Linked DNA regions of Homo sapiens: regions 1, 2 and 3 are each reported to be linked to region 4. Evidence: microRNA targets listed by miRTarBase, many of them from high-throughput screens and not tested one by one. Region 4 holds a microRNA gene; each other region holds the end of a gene's coding sequence.
What was found. The annotated mature microRNA hsa-miR-6785-5p reads UGGGAGGGCGUGGAUGAUGGUG and lies in region 4 at 1,318-1,339, shown strand. An mRNA with a match to its seed (bases 2 to 7 or 8) in the 3' UTR can be bound and repressed. Matches are read on the target gene's strand: a 7mer-m8 pairs with bases 2 to 8, a 7mer-A1 pairs with bases 2 to 7 and ends in A, and an 8mer does both.

Region 1: the mRNA of STRIP2 is a reported target of hsa-miR-6785-5p. Seed matches in the 3' UTR shown: 7mer-A1 at 1,823-1,829 and 7mer-A1 at 1,959-1,965.
Region 2: miRTarBase lists SNX12 as a target of hsa-miR-6785-5p. Seed matches in the 3' UTR shown: 7mer-m8 at 1,195-1,201 and 7mer-m8 at 1,487-1,493.
Region 3: miRTarBase lists FRRS1 as a target of hsa-miR-6785-5p. Seed matches in the 3' UTR shown: 7mer-A1 at 2,951-2,957.

Annotation. Positions count from the first base shown.
Region 1 is chr7:129,485,311-129,488,431 of GRCh38, forward strand. STRIP2 (striatin interacting protein 2) reads left to right here. Exons shown (of 21, transcript NM_020704.3): 21 at 269-3,089. The coding sequence ends at 519. Among named protein-coding and RNA genes, the nearest start is that of SMKR1, 16 kb to the right of the region's middle.
Region 2 is chrX:71,058,445-71,061,444 of GRCh38, reverse strand. It overlaps SNX12 (sorting nexin 12), which reads left to right. Exons shown (of 4, transcript NM_013346.4): 4 at 327-2,198. The coding sequence ends at 429. Among named protein-coding and RNA genes, the nearest start is that of SNX12, 8.4 kb to the left of the region's middle.
Region 3 is chr1:99,706,487-99,709,607 of GRCh38, reverse strand. It overlaps FRRS1 (ferric chelate reductase 1), which reads left to right. Exons shown (of 17, transcript NM_001361041.2): 16 at 349-410; 17 at 488-3,121. The coding sequence ends at 580. Among named protein-coding and RNA genes, the nearest start is that of FRRS1, 59 kb to the left of the region's middle.
Region 4 is chr17:75,497,236-75,500,356 of GRCh38, forward strand. It overlaps MIR6785 (microRNA 6785), which reads left to right and starts at 1,313; the gene lies at 1,313-1,393. It overlaps TMEM94 (transmembrane protein 94), which reads left to right. Exons shown (of 32, transcript NM_014738.6): 27 at 546-627; 28 at 940-1,088; 29 at 1,209-1,303; 30 at 1,394-1,487; 31 at 1,677-1,847; 32 at 2,027-3,121. The coding sequence ends at 2,099. It overlaps CASKIN2 (CASK interacting protein 2), which reads right to left. Exons shown (of 20, transcript NM_020753.5): 20 at 3,026-3,121.

The DNA.
Region 1 (3,121 bases), not on the chromosome of region 4:
TCATAGGTAACCACTATTACCAGTTTCTAGACTACCCTTCCAAAGATAATTTCTGCATATACAAGCTTATGCATGTGGGCATATGTGTATTTTTTAAACCTAAGTGTCAGCATGCTGTATACTAACTTCATACATTGCTCTTTACAAAAAAAAAAAAAAAAAGAATTTCTGAGCAGTTCCATTTTTGGAATCCCATAGACCATGCTCTGTGATAAGAGGAGCAGTGTCTTGCATTGTATGTCTTCTTCTTCCTCTCTTTCCAACACAGACATCGATGCCAGACCATGGGACTTCCAAGCAGAAGAATGTACCTTGAGGGCCAACATTGAGGCTTTTAACAGCCGTCGCTATGACAGACCCCAGGACTCTGAGTTTTCACCTGTGGATAACTGCTTGCAGAGCGTACTGGGGCAGAGGTTGGATCTGCCTGAAGATTTCCACTATTCATATGAGCTCTGGCTCGAGAGAGAGGTGTTTTCACAGCCCATCTGTTGGGAGGAGCTGCTCCAGAATCACTGACTAAGTTCTTGTCAACAAGCATCAATAGATAGAGGTCAGCTCCAATAAACTGTGCTCTGCCTACCCTGTCCATACAGGCGCTGTTACCAGTTCAGGGCTCTTCTGGGGGCTCTTGGGCCTAAAGATGGTGCAAGGGTGGGATCCTGAATCACAATAAAATGATCAACTTGCCCTGGGGTCAGTTGGGTGCCCAGTTGGCCTTGGAAATCTTTTGGTGGATCAATTCTAGACAAGCTCTTTGGTAGGACCTTTTCCTGCTTTAGTCTTGGCTACAACCAGGCTAGACTTTGCTGGCTCTAAAAGAGGAAATTTGTTATGGCATTTGACCCATGGCATTCATCACAGATAGTGGGAGGTACAAGTCATAAAATAGGGAGAAAGTTTTCTTCTTGCTCACACTGGATTCCTAGGACTTATCAGAGATTTGGAAAAACCAACTTTGAAATTAAGTTTGCATTTTAAATTTCAAATTTGGAAGCCTCTTTCTGAAATCATTAGCTCTAAGATTATTTTAGAGCACCTGCACCTTCTTTGTGAAGGATGATGATTTACTATTCCCTCAATACTGCATGTTATCGAAAAGTGTGTTGTGTAAAGTGTTTTTTTCCTCATTCTGTAAGAGATCTATATTCAATGTGAAAATTATTTCCTTGTGTACTCTGTATAGGGCATGGAATGCTCTGCCATTTTTAAAGAGCCACAACCAATATGAAATAATTAGGTCCTCTCTAAGGATGTTTCATGTTTTTCTTAAATGACTCCAGTCTTCAAATGGCTGAGCATACTGCAGAAAATTATCCTTTTCATCTAATTCATTTTTTAAATGACAAGTTAACTACAGGAGGCTTTATTTATTCAGATGGTATGTCCACTTGTGGTCGTGATCAATATATTTTTCTAATTGAAAAGTAAAAGCATCACAGCTTACCATTTTTCTTTTTCTGCAGTGTTGATTAATGATTTTTTTCCCGTTTATTGCTAGCAGTTTCAAAGTGTCATGTGGAGATTTAGCAATACTGTCTCTACTTAAAAGTATTGCACATTTCATTGAAAATGTGAGAGTTGATATACCAGCCTCTTTATATTTCTCTTTTACAGCAGAATCACATACTTCTCAAGATAAACAAGGTTTTTAAAAAAGTTTCTGATTTAGTTAGGATCATATGCTTTTTTTTTTTTTTTTTTTTTTTTTTTTTTTTTTGAGACAGAGTTTCGCTCTTGTTGCCCAAGCTGGAGTGCAATGGCACGATCTCGGCTCACTGCAACCTCCGCCTCCCGGGTTCAAGCGATTCTCCTGCCTCAGCCTCCCAAGGAGCTGGGATTACAGGCACGCACCACCATGCCTGGCTAATTTTTTGTATTTTTAGTAGAAACAGGGTTTCACCATGTTAGCCAGGCTGACCTCAAACTCCTGACCTCAGGTGATCCGCCCGCCTCCACCTCCCAGGGTGCTGGGATTACAGGTGTGAGCCACCATGCCCAGCCTCTTCAAGCTTTTTTACTATACATGTTGCCCCTCTCCCCCAACTTAGGCACTACTGAATTTTTTATGATGGCACCAGGTCACTTTATGCTGGGTGATATAGTCAAAATTTGCTTATTTACTCTGCCCCTCGTCAACCACAGTATCATTTCAAGGACATGAATAAAATACTTGACAGTATCCAAAGGAGCTATACCAAAATCTAACAAGTAAATTTTGGATTTTGCCTCTTTGTGCTTTAAAGTACCAGGATTTCTGTCTCTATGGATAGGTCTTGGAGAATGTTAAGTAATGGATGAAACTTTTTAAAATAATTTGTAAATTTTACCTAAGTAGGACAGTAGTCCTTACTGCAATCAAAATAATTTACTGAGCACAACTCCTGTAAATTAATCTACAGTCAGGCTAGTATGATTTTAATATGATTTGAGTAAAAAGATAATTTTCAAGGAAAGAGTAATCATCCATCAATTTATTATAAAGCCAGATAGTATTCAATTTATGTCAAGAACAAAGAAATTGCCCTTTTAAAAGCATGTACGTGAATGCTTTTTGAGGCACAGAAGTATGCTAAGCTTTAACATTTTGTATTTATTTACAACCCTTTTCTAAGGGAAGGTTACTTCTCAGTGCAGATGGAGAAACTGAAGCACTAAGGATAAATGATTAGTTTCCAATCACATCATTTTTTTCCACAGACTTGCTGGGACTAGCTTTCAGGTATTGACAGCCAGCCCCATATATTAAGGTAACCAGGTTGAATCTTCCAATTTGAGAACCCATGTATGGGTTGCAGTGAGCCGAGATCATGCCACTGCACTCCATCCTGGGCAACAAGAACGAAACTCCGTCTCAAAAACAAAGAAGGATATAATAAAGTTAATATATAAACCATGTATGTGGTTAGGAATAAATTCAAATTCACCAGTCTCCAATGGTGATTACTTTTACTACATAGAAAAACATTTTAGTGACTTACAGAGGATTTTTATTTGTGAATATTTCAGTAAAGTTTGTGTTGATTGTTGATAACACTGTTCATCTACTGAAGCACTTTAATAAAAATAAAATGAGCTGGAATTAGAAATTTGGTGTTTAAATTCTTCAACACAAGAGAAA
Region 2 (3,000 bases), not on the chromosome of region 4:
TTATAATGGGTACCATGATGTGGTGCCAATTGTGTGGTGGGCTGACTGGACAGTAAAACTCCATTCCTTTGAGTAGGATTCTGATCCTGTGTGTCAGGGCCTGAGAAAGCACTGCATGTTGGTTATATCTAGGGATTTCCCTGTCTTGCCCCTCTATCCCCCGTCCCCTTTACAATATTAGGGTTGAGGTGGTACCCTACTGCTGTCCTCTACTGGCTTGAACCTCAGGGCTGACCTTGCCCTTCTTCCCCTGTCCACATCCCCATCCCTCTGCTAATTCTCTCTGATTCTGAATACTACTGATAACCATCCTGGTTTCTTTATAGAATTGCTGGGCACCCACTGGCTCAGAATGAACGCTGCCTACACATGTTCCTGCAAGAGGAGGCAATTGACAGGAACTACGTCCCGGGGAAGGTGCGCCAGTAGGAGCCCCTCTCACCACCTGCCCTCTACTTTCCTGCTGAAATGACATTGGTTTTTACACTAAGCCTCTCTCTGTCTTTGATCTGAAGTTGGCTGCCCATCTCCTGGCCTGATAGACTGTCTGGCATTGTGCTCCCTGGTACCTGACTACACCATGTGGGCACTCTGCTAGGATCCTCTTCTCTGAGGAGAGGTGGGAACCCACAGGCAGATGCCCTTTGCTTGGGGTTGGGGTGGGTGGGTGGGGGGATTAGACTGGAAGGCAATTTCTTGGGCATTTACCCATGCCAGAAGGCTAACCTGGGGGGAGGGGGGCGCTTGTGCTGGTGAGGCACTTGGATACATACTGATGCTGCAAGTTCAGGGGATTTTTCTTACTCTTAGGTTTAACCAAGAACACTGAGCAGGGAAAAACCCTGCCTTTCCTAACTGCATGTATTTTTTCCTTTTTGGAAAGGTGGTAGAGACTCAGAAGCTTTCCTTGTTTTCTTCAGGCCTGCTCCCAGTTTTCTTAACAGTTTCTTTTGTTGCTTTCTCTCTCCCTTGTTGCTTTCCATGGCAGTAATCCTCCTAGAGTCCAAGCAGTCTGTTGTATGGAGCAGGGTGTGTGGGTTTTCTGGGCCCATCATTATGGCTGCTTCAGAGTCAGAAGAAAGCCATAGGGCAGTAGGGGAGCTCCTATTGCCTAGCCCCTCTCCCTTTGTGGCTCCCACTCTAGCTGCCTATTTTTGCTCATCAGCTGGTGAGTCAGTATGGGCCAGCAGTTCTCCCTCCCTAAGCCCTTGCTACTTTATGGGTTAGCTTTGCAGGTTTGGTGGCTTGAGGGGTGGGGGCAACTCACCACTGCCAGGTAACTCCCTGAAGGGTGGGAGTGGATTATCTTCTAGGCTCTTACCCGCGGTAGGGAAGGGCATCAACACTGTCTTCCTTCCATTCTCCTTTCCCCCATCCCATTTAGTGCTGCCACAGGGCAGAAGCACACAAACCAACCACACAGTCTCTGACTTCTCCTAAGCACTTTGAGTTGTTGAATGGGGCTCAGGGGCAAGAGTTTTTGCTGCCCTCCCCAGCGTGGTCACAGGGTTATTGAACTGCCTGCACTTGTTTCTCATGCAACTCCAGCATTTTCCCCAGAAGTTGAACTATGGATAGCAGCTTGGTATGGATTTCCTAAATCTTAACATTTGAAGCAGCTTCTTGAGGCTGGCAACTATCCTGGTTTCTGTCTTGGAGGGGGTGGTTTGTTTGCTGGGGCCCAACGTCTGTCCCAAGTGGTGGGGTGAGAGTAAGTTAACTTTGGTGCCAGGTGAGAGGTGGGGGCTCTTTGCTTAGACTCCCTATCATGGAAAGATTGGAGTTTTCTATGCAGGGCACTGTGGAAAAGGATTGCTGATTCTGACTGACCCTGATCAGAGAGATTAGGATTGTATTTTGACATAGGATTTGGAACCCATCTAAATGTTGAAGTTCCCTGAGACAGCTCTCCAGCTGCTGAGCCTGCGCCAGGGGCTAAGCAGCCCCTAATGAGAGGCTCTGCTCCCTTTCCCACCTCGCCAATGTTGTTGTTGCTGCCTTTTTGATTTGTATCCTCTGTTATAGACATTTTTTAAAAACGATTTCCTCTTTCATTGTGCACAAGTGCTGAGAGTCTGAGGCCCCATTTCTGCTGTGTATATATATCCTGACTCGGGGCTTTTATTCAGCAAACTGTTCATTCTTCTGTCAGACAATGTCATATTCAACTCTGTTCATATTAAACCACTGTGAAGCAAGCCTCTGTTTTCCTGCTTAAGTTGTAAATTTAGTATTCTTTAGTGTCTAGGATATGCTGGGTATTATGCAGAAATCATACAGTGTGGCCAGTGTCCTGAGGTAATGTTTTGCATTTAAATTTTTTTAGAAAGCAGAATCTTAACTTATCTTAATGATATTTACCTATCCTTTTTGCAACTCACAACTGACTTTGTCACAGAGGTAATGCATCTGCTTGCAGGAAGTAGCTGTAGGCTCAGTACCTGTTGTTTGAGTCAGATTTAGCAGATTTGGTTTTTAAGCTTGTGGGTTTGTGCTAATTTGGGCAGAATATATTTATTATATATGTGTGTGTGTATGTGTGTATGTGTGTGTCTGCATATGTAATACATGTACATAAACACACATGCATGTGTTCATCCTCTGACACACCCACACAACACCAACAAACATTTCTTCTATAGGCTTTTTATCTCAACTGACACTGTTTTTTTTCCCAAATAAATTTGACACAGGCAGAAAGGTGGGTGAACTCTCAGAACTTTTGGTGGGTGGATATTCATCTGACCAGTGAGCTCTGAAATGGTTTCCCTACACAGAGTGGGTTTTGGCAAGGGTTGGAATGAGGGGAGGTAGCAGTCTTGTCATTTAGAAAATCAAAGCTAGTTTTGATGTAGCTCAACATGGAAAGAAGGTACAGAAAGTGATGTGTTCAAAACATTAGCAAATTAAGGCTGAATGTGGTTGGCTCATGCCTGTAATCCCAGCATTTTGGGAGGCTGAGGCAGGAGGATTGCTTGAGCCCAGGAGGTTGAGACTAGC
Region 3 (3,121 bases), not on the chromosome of region 4:
TTATAATGTATGCATATATCAAAACATCATGTCATACACCATGAATATATACAATATTTTGTCAATCAAAAATAAAACCAAAGAGCTTAGATCGTTATGACTTTGAGGTGGTGTTTAATGACTAGAAGAAGGCATATTTTAAGTTATTTAACAAATGTGTGCTCTTGCCAGATTGTCCACATTTGTGAGAGGCTTAATTGTTCAGGAAGTCTGCAATAATTAGTAGTTTGGAGTGGGAGAATTTCTACCCTGGAAATTGGGGTGAACAGTACAAATCAGGTTTTTTTAAAAAATTTAATTTACCTGCATAACGCTGCCCTTAAAAACTTATGTTATTATTCTTGACAGTTGAAATATTGGATGATGACAGAATTCAGATCCTTCAGTCATTTACTGCAGTGGAAACAGAGGTAAGTCCTTTTCTTGTTCATTGACACAAACCTTAATGGTAATACTTTTTTTTTTCATATCTCAATTTTTCTTTCAGGGTCATGCTTTTAAAAAGGCAGTGTTGGCAATTTATGTCTGTGGGAATGTTACTTTTCTCATCATATTTTTATCTGCAATCAACCATCTATGAGCAAGCAAAGACCTTGGCTTTTGCAGGCCAAGTGATAATTATCATCAAACCAAAGAAACTTGAAGCCTGTCCTGACTGCCTGGAGCATATTTGTGAATTCTCACTTGGAAGACTGGGGTCATGTCTGTAGAGGAATTCTGAAGTCCAGCCTTTAGAGAACAACATTCAAGAGGGTCATATAGACTATAAATTAATGTCATGCCCTATATGTAATTCTGGGTCTTAAAGGAAAGATTGTACTTCAGGAGAAGTAACTCTCAAATATTTCATGCCAAGATTTTAAGAATGTTGGTATTTAAGAAAATAAATAGTGATTTGGAAAATCACAACAGATGTCACTAGGATAATAAAGAGATATATTACGATATATATATATATATATATATATATATATATATATATTTTTTTTTTTTTTTTTTTTTTTTTTTTTGAGACAGAGTCTTGCTCTGTCGCCCAGGCTGGAGTGCAGTGGTGCAATCTCGGCTCACTGCAAGCTCTGCCTCCTGGGTTCACACCATTCTCCTGCCTCAGCCTCCTGAGTAGCTGGGACTACAGGTGCCCGCCACCATGCCGGGCTAATTTTTTTTATATTTTTAGTAGAGACAGGGTTTCACCATTCACAGGATGGTCTCGATCTCCTGACCTTGTGATCTGCCTGCCTCAGCTTCCCAAAGTGCTGGGATTACAGGCGTGAGCCACCACGCCCAGCCTATGGTAAATATATTTTGAACTACAAAGGTGCTGTGGTACTTTAAAGAAAAACTATTTTTACTAGTTTATCTGAATGGTCTGTGGACTTTATTTAGAAACTGTTTTTCAGTTTAGTTTTTTGGACATATCCTTTGCTCAGTGTATTTTGTTACTTCTCTAGTAAAGGTAGAAGTGAAGCAGATGCCATTGTAGGTTTTACCAGCATTTAAATATATTATGAATTGCTTAGCAATGAAATGCAAGTATGCATCTTTTACTTAAAGATACTATTTATGTATTCAGCTACAGAGATGAAATAGCATTTTATGTGTTAATTGTTTTGGCTATAAAATTTAAGTCCTTACAGCATTTGGGGATTATACACTTGGATTTCAAAATTGATAAAACCCTTGTGAACATATCTAATAGATATTCTGTTTACTTGTAGAAATAATATAATGTGTCTGGTTCTGTTTTGTTAGACATTTTTTATGTTCTACTGAATCAGAATAGTCAGTGTTATATTCCTTATTTCAAGAATTCATCTATTTTATGGCTACATCTCATATGTGCTATGAGGACTTCTAGCCAGTGGGTGGCGCTGTAATACCGAAGTACTGCACTGCTTTGTTCCTGTTTCCTTGTGCTGATTCCTTTCTAGTATTTAGGTAACATTACCGGATGGCATTTCCCTTAAATTCCACCAACTCTTAATCTTTATTTTAAAAATGGCTACTTTTTTTGGGTGGTTGGGGTAAGGGTTAAAACCTTAAATTAGTAACCGCTGTTTATTTTCCAGTTTATTTGTTTTCTGTGATTATTTATAATAATTGATATTTGTTTTTACAAGTCCCCTGACCCTGTAATAATGAATGCAGCTATCTTAGGCAAAGCAAATAAATAAACTGGGCATTTTTAAAATAAAAAATTTAGGAAGTCATACTTTATTTCTTTAGGTATTCTTTCTGATTATGTTATAGTTTCTGCTTGGCCCGAGAACCTAATTTCTATATGGTGTGAATAATAGCCTCAGCTATGTAGCCTACATCTTTATTTTATTAATATTTTTCAAAAATTTTCTCATTATTTCTTTTTTATATTTTTATTTTTTGAATTTACTTAACCAACTTTCTACTAATAGCCTACATCTTTTACTGGGTAAAATAATGTGGAAGTTTAGTTTTTGTTCCTTTTATAGGTGTTTATCATAAGTGGCTTAGGGCTTAGATATGAACTTTCTGTGTTCATATTCTATATGTGCCATGCTACTTATAATCTAAATTTTCCTTTTGAAGGTCTTTATTAAAAAAATTTAGTATAGCAAATTAAGTGTGTACTAAAGTTATTTTCCTCCAGTTTTCTATACTAAGGAGCTTAAATGTTAATAAATTTCTCTTAAGTTATATTCTACATCTGACAAAGAAAAATTCTCTCTTTTTTTTTTTTGTGACAAAGTCTCACTCTGTTGTCTAGGCTGGAGTGCAGTGGTGCAATGTTGGCTCACTGCAGCCTCCACCTCCTGGGTTCAAGCGAGTCTTGTCTCAGTCTCCTGAATAGCTGGGACTACAGGTGTGCACCACCAGTCTCGGCTAATTTTTATATTTTTAGTAGAGACGGGGGTTTCACATTTTGGCCAGGCTGGTCCCAAACTCCTGGTCTAAAGTAATCCACCCGCCTCAGCCTCCCAAAGTGCTGGGATTACAGGCACGAGCCACTGTGCCCAGCTGAAAATTCTTTTAAGGGAAAGATGAGTCTTGATGTGTTTGGTCTTCAAATATGTGGGCTTGCTATATTTCGAGTGTTGAGGCTAAGATATTTTAACTTTTTCTTTTTCAGTGCTTCATATGTTGG
Region 4 (3,121 bases):
AGCAGGAGGTGTCTGGATGTCACTGTGCAGCCCCAGGAGCCCAAGGTTCTGGAACTGCTCAGGTCTCACCTCCTCTGGTACAGGAGGCATGGAGGGAACCCCCTTTGTCTTTTTTTTTTTTTTTTTTTTTTTTTTTGAGATGGAGTCTCGCTCTGTCACCCAGGCTGGAGTGCAATGGTGCAATCTCTGCTCATTGCAACCTCCGCCTCCCGGGCTCAAGTGATTCTCCTGCCTCAGCCCCCTGAGTAGCTGGGATTACAGGCACCCACTATCATGCCTGGCTAATTTTTGTATTTTTAGTAGAGATGGGTTTTTGCCATGTTGGCGAGGCTGGTTTTGAACTCCTGACCTCAAATGATCTGCCCATCTCAGCCTCCCAAAGTGCTGGGATTACAGGTGTGAGCCACTGCCGTCCAGCCTTTGTTTTATTCCATCCCCTCACCAGACTCGACCTCACGCGCAAGACTCCCTAGAGGTTCCCTCTATGAGAATTGAGGGACAGAGGGTCATTGTCACCATCCCTCTACCTGATCTCTGCTTTTCAGCATCTCTCTGCTGGGGAAGCCCCCCCATAGCTCCATCATGTCTATGGCAACGGGGAAAAACCTCCAGTCCATTCCCAAGAAGGTAAGCAAAACAGACCCTGTGAGCCTTGCAAGTGAGCATGGAAGGGACTGAGGATTGGGGGAGGAGAGAGGGGCTAATCTGGAAGGCTCTGGATGGGGGATTCCAGCAGAACTCCGGCACTTGGTTCCTAGTCTTCCCCCAGATCAAAGAGGAGGTAGTGGCACAGAGCTGGGAAAGACCCTTGCTGGGGCTTGAGCTCCCTATCCCCCCAGGCCTGACCATTTACTAAGAGCCCGTTGAATACGTGGAAGAGCTAGGAGCAGCCGGCAGAGGGGCTGTGCGCCCCAGGAGTGACTGGCCTTGTTCCCGCAGACCCAGCACTACTTCCTGCTCTGCTTCCTGCTCAAGTTCAGCCTCACCATCAGCTCCTGCCTCATCTGCTTTGGCTTCACACTGCAGAGCTTCTGTGACAGCTCCCGGGACCGCAACCTCACCAACTGCTCCTCCGTCATGCTGCCCAGGTGGGTCCCAGCCCCAGAGATCCACCCATCGCCTGCCTCGCCTCGAGGCTTCCTCCCTCCCCACCCCAGCCTACCTCCCTGCGGCCCTAGAGGGGCTGAGCCCATGCCTCACTTTGGCAGCAACGACGACAGGGCTCCAGCCTGGTTTGAGGACTTTGCCAATGGACTGCTGTCGGCTCAGAAGCTCACGGCCGCCCTGATTGTCCTGCACACTGGTGAGAGGGCTCCCTGGGAGGGCGTGGATGATGGTGGGAGAGGAGCCCCACTGTGGAAGTCTGACCCCCACATCGCCCCACCTTCCCCAGTCTTCATTTCCATCACCCATGTGCATCGCACCAAGCCCCTGTGGAGAAAGAGCCCCTTGACCAACCTCTGGTGGGCCGTGACAGTGCCTGTGGTGTGAGTATTGCTAGGATGGAGGGCGGAGTGTGGGCTGGGGAGGAGAGGGCCTTCTGCAGGGCTAGGATCGGAGGGCGGGACCGGGGCCAGTGGTTTAACTGTACCCTGCCTGAGCTAACTGTTGTACTGGGAAGAGCAGGGAAGGAAGCAAGCAGTGTCGGGTTCACACGGGGCCGCCACCTCCTGCAGGCTGCTGGGTCAGGTGGTCCAGACGGCTGTGGACCTGCAGCTGTGGACACACAGGGACAGCCACGTCCACTTTGGCCTGGAGGACGTGCCCCTGCTGACATGGCTCCTGGGCTGCCTGTCCCTGGTCCTTGTGGTGGTGACCAATGAGATCGTGAAGCTACATGAGATTCGGTGAGCTGTCAGCAGGGCGCCTCCCTCTGGGCTCAGGCATGTTCCCTAAACCTGTTACTCCCTTGGCGACACTCCCCCACCTTTCCGCTGCCCATCCCTCCCTCCTCCTCTGGTGTCCTGCCCCGGCCCCTGGTCTAAGGATCTTTGCCAACCTGTACTTTAATCTCCTGCCCCACCAGGGTCCGAGTCCGCTACCAGAAGCGACAGAAGCTGCAGTTTGAAACTAAGCTGGGCATGAACTCTCCCTTCTGAGCCACTGGCTGTGGTGGCTGTAGTTGCCCCCGTCCCTGGGGCTAAAGCCAGACCCATTTCTGAACAGGGGAGTTTGTATCATGAATGTTTCCAGGTTTGCTCCTGCACCCGTGGCACTGGAAACCCAGCTCCCCGTGTCAGACCCCGCTGTCTTCCTGAGCCCTGGGGCTCACTGTGGAGGAGCTGACGGCCTGGGCCCTTGGCCAGTCCTGGCTCTTCCCTGGGCCTCACCAGGGACACTCTTGAATGTATGGCCTCAGGCGCTCCCTAGAGGGGCCCTAAACCCCCTCACCTGTGAGCTACCCCCTTTAGGGATCCCTTGCCCCCTTGGAGATCCCTTGCCCCCCAGTGCCTCTGCTCGTGGGTCCCTGGACACGGCCTTGAAGCCAACCTTCTTTGGAGGAGCAACAGCAGCAGCCTTGGCCGACGCGTCCAACTCCCAAGGCTGCCGTGGAGGGCAGGGGGGTGGTGCTTGCCTGGATGTGGCCCCGAGTGCCTCCCCTCCCTCCCTCTGTGGGGGAGTCTCCCGCCTGAACCTGAAGATGGAGCAGGGCCCCCGCTTCGCCCTGGAGCCTCTTCCTGTGCCTGGCTCAAGCTGGCTGCCTGTCAGTCTTGGGGAATCTGGCCCAGGTCTCCTCAGCCTCTGCCCCAGTTCTGGGAGAAGTTTCTACTGGTGTATATTTTTTACTGGAAATGAGCCTTTTAGGAATGAATGTAGACTGGTTTGTATTAAAATGTGTCAATTGCTAAGAAATACCTGTGGCTGGTCTGTAAGGCCACTCCAGGGTCTGCCCACCCCCGGCGGTGGCTGGCAAAGGGAGGCCTAAACCTTCCTCCATCTACGCGGGTGGGTCCCTCAGGTCTGGCTCAGGCGAGACCCCTAGGGTCAGGGGTCCCCATGTCACAGAGGCAAACACACAGCCCAGTCACGTGGAATGGTGTTTTCATTGGTGTTAGTTGGGGGAAGAGGTTAATGGTTACAGAGCCAGGGCCTGGGCCAATGGGGTCAGGCTCTCCCTGCC